2 linked regions of the Homo sapiens genome follow. The protein of the gene in region 2 interacts with the protein of the main gene of each other region in a biochemical or structural test. Each region holds a gene or a part of one and is shown on either strand. Other genes may lie near its edges.

What was found. Proteins that work in one complex are often made in the same cells at the same time.
Region 1: the proteins of IL16 (region 2) and DGKI interact in a test that uses a peptide from one of them, tested with the Homo sapiens proteins (one large-scale study listed by IntAct).

Annotation. Positions count from the first base shown.
Region 1 is NC_000007.14:137,570,865-137,574,521, forward strand, and holds part of DGKI (diacylglycerol kinase iota), read right to left. Parts: intron 1,975-3,657; coding exon 1,901-1,974; intron 423-1,900; coding exon 311-422; intron 1-310. UniProt on the Homo sapiens protein: Diacylglycerol kinase that converts diacylglycerol/DAG into phosphatidic acid/phosphatidate/PA and regulates the respective levels of these two bioactive lipids.
Region 2 is NC_000015.10:81,301,294-81,304,950, forward strand, and holds part of IL16 (pro-interleukin-16), read left to right. Parts: intron 1-50; coding exon 51-219; intron 220-2,255; coding exon 2,256-2,357; intron 2,358-3,657. UniProt on the Homo sapiens protein: Interleukin-16 stimulates a migratory response in CD4+ lymphocytes, monocytes, and eosinophils. Primes CD4+ T-cells for IL-2 and IL-15 responsiveness. Also induces T-lymphocyte expression of interleukin 2 receptor. Ligand for CD4.

The sequences.
Region 1 (3,657 bases), on a different chromosome or scaffold from region 2:
AGGCATGAGCCACTGCACCCAGCCCAGTGTAATGTTTTTAATTAGCATAAAAACTTTTCATTCTGTTAGAAAATTAATCAGGAAAAGTAAGAAGTGATACTCATTTATTCTTGAGGTTCAAACAAATGTGCATCAGTTTTCTTAGTGACATAAATGATGATTTTTTTTCTTGTTTTTCCTAAGCAACTCTATAATTCATAAAATGTGTAACTTGATAAAGCAGGAGAAAAAGTTAACTAAAGTCCTGTGAATTGAATAAACTCTGTGACTAAAATACATTTCATTTTAATAAAACAGTTATATTGCTCACCAAAGAGGCCATGGTAAATCCAATGACTTCAATATAACCATCATCATGACGCTGAGGTTCGAAATCATGGTGATCACCTGGGTTTCCCCAGGGCATTGTGCCAGCACAATATCTGCAAGAGAAGATTAAAGACAGAAGTAAATATGTCCCATCCTTCTCATGACTATCATGAGGTGTTAGTTTGTAGTTAGACCCAATGTTTATCAAACATAAAAACAGTTTTCCATTCTTGGTACACACCTTCCATTAGAAAAGGAAATGCACTTCTTATCATCTACAAAATACCAAGCTGTGAAAACGGGCCATAATTTTGCAACAAAAGTATCCTGTGGTATCCAACTTTCTCCTCGTTCGTTATCTATATTTCTCACTATGATTCATGTATGTCTGTTTTCTATGATATATCATGAATTATCTATAGGTGGTTTCAGAATTTGGTCTTAAAGGAAGATGTATGCATGCCAGTAGAAAAGAGACAGGGAAATGAAGTGGGAAGCATTTGCCATTAATACATAAGCAAAATAAGAGGTACTCACAGGAGAAGGGAAAGGTAACTATGGAAGACAGAGTGAAGAAGAGATGAAATATAGATAAGAGATTAGAAAGAGAATGGGAAACAGAAGAAATTGGAGAAATAGAGGAAGAAGAATACAGATGGAAAGAGGGAGAAGCAAGAAAAGACAGAAGAAGGACAAGAGAGGAAGAAGGACAAGAGAGGAAGGACAAGAGAAAGAATAATAAAGCAAAGTAATAAACAATGCTTTCTGAGAATCAAGGCCTTCTACTTCAATTAAGCTGTAAATATTTCTGGAATAAAATTGTAACTGACTATATTGAGCACTGCCAAGAATAATCAGGAGACTATGATGTGTTTTCCTAGCCACAGATTTACATACAACTCTCATTTCAATTAAATTCAGTCTAAATACAATGTATTTGCAGATTTTGTGTCTGAGTTGTTTGGCAGGCAAATAAATGGTTATAGATCCATCCCTTCCAAAATCTTGGCTTCAGGGCCTAGAACATAATTTATGCCACTGAGATAATATGTTTATTTTGAGTCTAGTTATCTTAAATATCCCTTTCTCCTGAAGTGCGTAATAGCACCATGGAGAGTTGACATCCTGGCTAGAAAACAATACTCTAACTCATCCTATTTTTCAAAGAAATCATCTGGCAACAATTTTGAATGAATTCCGCACTTGAATCAGACTGGATGGTTTTTCAACAGTTTTTAGGAAACTGAGAACAAAAAAAGTGTTTCAATTCTCTCATTCTTAGATGGGGAGGAAGAGGGGAAGAACAGTAATTTAGAAATAAATTAAGATGTTCCAGTCAAGAGGGGTGCCTGGGTTTCTTAAAGATGGGTAAGTACAGACAATGCATGCCACATGACGCACAAAACCACCAACCACAAAGAACACTAAATAAACCAAATCGGAGAATGAATTATCAGACCTAGAAATCTTTAATTACCCATTTAGATAACTGATCTTCATTGTTTACATCTGAAACTTTTCTGTTATGAAAACAGATAACCTCAAGTCAGAGTTCACGTCAAACCAAGGAAACAATACAAACAGAGCCTACCTGGGTATATTTAAAAATACTATACACTGGAACTTCAGTTCCTGAATCTTTGGGGTGAGATCTGTTCCATCACACTGAAACAATGAAAACAGAAAAGGGGTTTTGAAGTAGTCACAAGTCTAAAAACCTATGAAAGATAACTAGTTTGACAATAGTACACACCATGGTCTCTTTCTCCTTGCCCTATCTCTGCTTAAGTGAATGCCGGTCACAGTGATTAAAAATATATTCTGGTTATAGCTTTACTGGACCCAGGGTACAGAGGTTGGTTTTGTTCGCACTTAAGGTAAGAACAAAACCTCCATTTGATTAAAATGATTTCTTCTCTGGTCTCACAATCAAAGGAAATATTATCATTCTTAACAATGGATGATTATTAGTTATCTAGACTGATGGTGTCAACATTAAAAGATTTATGAACACTTAAAAGAATGAAAAGAAAAAAGCCTCAAGTTAAAGCAGTAGTATTCACCACCATCATTATCTGATTCAAACAAGTCACAAATATAATGATTTATTTTCTTCGTTTTTTGAGACAATTTTTATTTTGCAAATGTCAAATATTTTGAAGACTTTTTAAAAAGTCTATGTACCGCAAACTTTTGAAAAGATATCTATCATACAGTAGTATTATCTTCATTCGTGGTTTGTTCTTAGAAACTTAATCTTGTACAGACTCACCCAGGCCGAAGTGCAATGGCGTGATCTCAGCTCACTGCAACCTCAGCCTGCCAGGTTCAAGCGATTCTCCTGCCTCAGCCTCCCAAGTAGCTGGGATTACAGGTGCCCGCCACCACGCCCAGCTAATTTTTGTATTTTTAGTAGAGACGGGGTTTCACCATGTTGGCCAGACTGGTCTTGAACTCCTGACCTCAGGTCATCCACCCGCCTTGGCCTCACAAAGTGCTGGGATTATAGGCGTGAGCCACTGCGCCTGGCCATTCAGACTTTAGACTTCTAAGATTCACTGTCTTCCTGGAATTTAGACCTGGGAATCAAGGGTCTCAGCCTAGCTTGGCCTCAACAACCCTCGAACATGGATGGCTTCCCTGATCTGCTAGCGCTTTCTGCAAGGGTATCATCCTTTGATAAATCAAGGAAAAGTCTTTCATGTTCCTTTCTCATTTCCCACTGGTGACAAAAGTCAAAAGAGAATAACTCTAGTCATGACTATAGACTTTCCGATGTCAAAGGCGTAAAGCCTGCTCTCGTATTTGCTTTCCTTATACCCTTATCACAGGATTTCCCCATTACCTTCTCATTTGGAGAGAGGAGCAAAGCATCCCCAAGCTCCCTGCAAATTCTGAAAGAGTTCTTTAGGATCAGTTTCAATCTAAGTATAATGATTTTGCTAGTGGTCAGGTTGTCTCCAGCACCTGCATTTTTTTTCCCAGTCGATCTCCATACAGCCTAATTTTCATGAGTATTCTCAAAGAATTGTTTCCAAGAAATCTTACAATTTTAAATAAACAAATTATTTTCAAATATAACTTAGTAATAAAATTCTAGACATTAAAGATGTTTTTCTAGTACTCTCAACTACTAAGCAAACATCTTCCAACTTACTTAAGAACTTGAAATGAGTTATAAATGACTATGCCAATGAATAAAAAAGTAGACATTGTAAATGTCAAAATTGCATGTTATAAGCAACTAAAACTTAAAACCTAGGATGTGATATATTAATAGTGTATAAAGCATTATGGTTGCATTGCAGAAAGATTATAATAAATATTATTGTATTTAGAACAGAATTC
Region 2 (3,657 bases):
CTCTTTTTAATATTGTTGTTCATACTGTGTGTTGTTTCTCCTTATGAAAGCCTTTCAGAGCTGAGAGAATATACAGAGGGTCTCACGGAAGCCAAGGAAGACGATGATGGGGACCACAGTTCCCTTCAGTCTGGTCAGTCCGTTATCTCCCTGCTGAGCTCAGAAGAATTAAAAAAACTCATCGAGGAGGTGAAGGTTCTGGATGAAGCAACATTAAAGGTAGGTTTCCTTTGTAAGCATCTGCAGTAACCAATGGCTTATTATGGCTGTGTGGCCACCTTAGTTGGGCCAGAGGGGAAGTAGCTTGAGTAGCCTGCTCACATCAGACCCAGGTTGCGTCCTGTGATGGTGGGACACTGTAGCACTTGACCACAGTAAGACCTTCCATTTGAAGAGAGCCTTTTAGCTTGTGAACCACTTTCAGTAGATTGACTTCTTGCATCTTCTTTTGTCATTTTATAAATGAGAAAGGTAAGGCTCAATCAAGGTTACAGAACCTGGGTTTTCTGTCTCCAAGTTCAAGTTCAGTGCTGTTTCCACATTCCATGTGCTGCTGTCCTGGCATGTGTCTGTTGTGGGATGCTGTCCATTGTAAACAATGTGGGTTACAAGAGCTCTCACCTGGAGCTTTCATTATTTCCACTGTGCATGGAGAGGTGGCTGATCCCAGGGCTCACAAGTCCCCCACGCTTCAGTCAAGTCATTCTGAAAGTCTCACTTCCCATATGTTTTCTGAGCATGACCCAAAGGGGTGTGGGGAGGAAGTGGCCAGGCTGAGCTGGGGCCAGCAGTCAAATGAGCTCAGGCTCATGGGTCCTGCACCCTCTAGGTGCTGCCCCAGGCCTCCGTAGGCTTTTGGCACTAGAATGATCCAGGCTAGGATGAGAGGATAAGGAGGTTCTCGTTTTCCATACAAGGAGGCCTCATAGCTGCAATTTCCACATCAAGAGTGTAGGTGAGTCTGATGAGCCCAAGGTGCTGCTGTGCTGAGATTCTTTCGCTGTGGCTTTCACTTGTCACCTGGGACCATCATCCCCCAGGATCTTACTCAGTGCAAATGAAATAACAGAGGCAGAGCGTGTAAAACACAAAGAGCCATCCTGCCTGAGCTGCTCTGGGGAGAGTATTTGCTTTCTAACATGAGAAGAGCCTTCTACAAGGCAAGTAACCTGATACTTGGGTAAAAGTTGAGAGAGTTGGGCTAGTGTTGGGGCTTGGAGGTGAGGGTGCAGTGAGGTACATTCATCCTTCCATGCCTTTGGGTCTTAGGGGCTCCAAGTCTTAGGATCATAGGGACAGCTGCAAGTCAGGTGCTCTAGTGACGCTGAGCAAGTGAATTCTTTGACATAAGTTTACTCCTTAGTGCCAAGGTACAAACAGGTGCCCCAAGAACCTGTAGGTGTACTTTATTTGGTCTGCATGGTGATGAAAAAAATATTGAATTCTATACATGATAAAACCTGAATTGAAACCTGGACTTTAGGGAAGTGATCTGGTAGCGCTAGTTCTGTATGCCTACGTAGAGCTGACCCTTTGAGCAGATGTACTCGTTGGCGCTCTGCAGTTCCTATCACACATCTGCCCATTTGGCTCATTTTAGGGACCTGCCTGACTCCTATAGGCATCTGAGTTTGAGACCCCTGCTCTAGACTGGAATAGGAGTCTCTGACTGTGTCCTGGCTCCATGGGAGTCCCCGTCTAGGCTAGGAAGTACCGTAGTAATGTGTGTGTGTGTGTGTGTGTGTGTGTGTCACACTTGCACACTGTGCATTGGGGCAGGATGTTAGCTGGGCTTCCTTAGTGCTGCTGCTGTGACCCATGGAGAAGTAGAAGGGAAGAAGGAGCAACCAATTCCTGCAGAACAGCACTGACCCCTGTTTTGTTTTTTGTTGTTTTTTTTTTTTGTTTTGTTTTACCTGAAGTCCTACAACCTGACTTCATCTCACACTGTCCAATATGCTGATTTCTGGCTGACTTCATGGCACTCCCCCTGCCCGGCTGTGGACAGGGTGAATGAGAGAGGAAAATAATTATGCTTGCTGCTTTACATACATTTTTTTTTTCTTCTAAGCTTCCCATGACTCCTGAAGGTCCATTCTTTACAGATGAGGAAACTGAGGTTTGAGGAGGTGATGTAACTTGGAGGCTGGCCAAGCTGGGGTTTGAGATAACAAATCAGTCTGATGTCAGTCCGATGTTAAATTGTTCATCCTCTTGCAGTAAAATGTTTTTGAATGTATGTATTTCCTCTGCAGCAATTAGACGGCATCCATGTCACCATCTTACACAAGGAGGAAGGTGCTGGTCTTGGGTTCAGCTTGGCAGGAGGAGCAGATCTAGAAAACAAGGTGATTACGGTGAGTGGCCAAGTGAAGGGGCATGTCACAGCCAGAGGCAATGGTTCTGGGGGAGGGGGACACACTTGCCAGGAAGGGGCCCTGTGCTGGGGAAATGAAGAATGCATGACACTAGGCCACTGGGCAGGTCCTGTCCACTCAGCACATCCCAGAGCCTGGGGCTGCGTGGAGAGGGTAGCAGGCCTGGCCATGGGCATCTTTTCCTGTGGGTCCCACTATTCTGGCTCATCCAATCTGATCAGCATTGGCTGCTGCCTTCAGGTCACCTGTACCTGACCCAGATGGTTTCTGGTTCTGCCAGTTTTGTGGAGCCATGCTGCGGCTGCTCGCTCTCTAAAGCCGAGTGCATTGCTGTCATCCCAGGGCTGTGTTGTCTCAGGGTATCCTTTGTGTAGGCTGTGCTGGGCTCATTTGAATTTCCATGCCCAACTGAAAACAAATCCTCCAGTTCACAGCATCAGCCAGCATTCAACATACCACACCCCCTTGCAGTGGCAATCTGGCATGTTCCTGCGTGTCACTTCAGAGTCAATCATGTCAGTGGTGACTTCCTTGATTTCCTGATAAGTTTTCTATCACATAAAAAACACTTAAAACCTGTAAGTCTCTATTTCTCTCACTGAGTGCAGCTGAGTATTACAAAAAGATTCCTGACCGTGTAGTTTACTTTCTACTTGAAGAGGAGGAAAGAGAGCTTGCCTGTGGGAATGGCACTTTGGGTATTTTTCTCTGTCCATGAGTAGCAACTTCTGTCCACGTCATCTGGCCAGTCACCCTTGAGACACTGCAGACAACAGGAAACTAGGAGGAAGGCGCACATGTTGGCTGAGCACATGCACAAAAGCTTCTTTCTCCTTCTGTGTTTGAGCATTTCTCTTCCTTTCCAGATGATTAAAAGGGAACTAACGTAGAGCACCATCCACGGCCATGCTGAGCACTCACTGACCTGTTGTCTAAATTCATCCTACCCACACTTTGGATTGATAAATTGGTGGCATTTATGCTTCTTTTATAGAGGAGGAACCTGAGGTTCCTCCTTTAATTAACTTTAATCTTCGTTGGCCTAAAAATCCTCTAGCATTGAGGAACCTGAGGCTCAGAGGAGAGGTTCTGCTTCATGCTTGGATGTTACAGCCTGGGGATTCTAACCATGTAACAGAATTTTTCTAACACCAAAACAATTTAGAGAAGCAAAGAGCTTTGCTCCTATCATAAAAGCAAAACTACAGGTACCACATTTTAGTGGTTTCCATGCATGCTATCACTCAGTCCTCTTAATTATAATGGACCTCATTAAAGA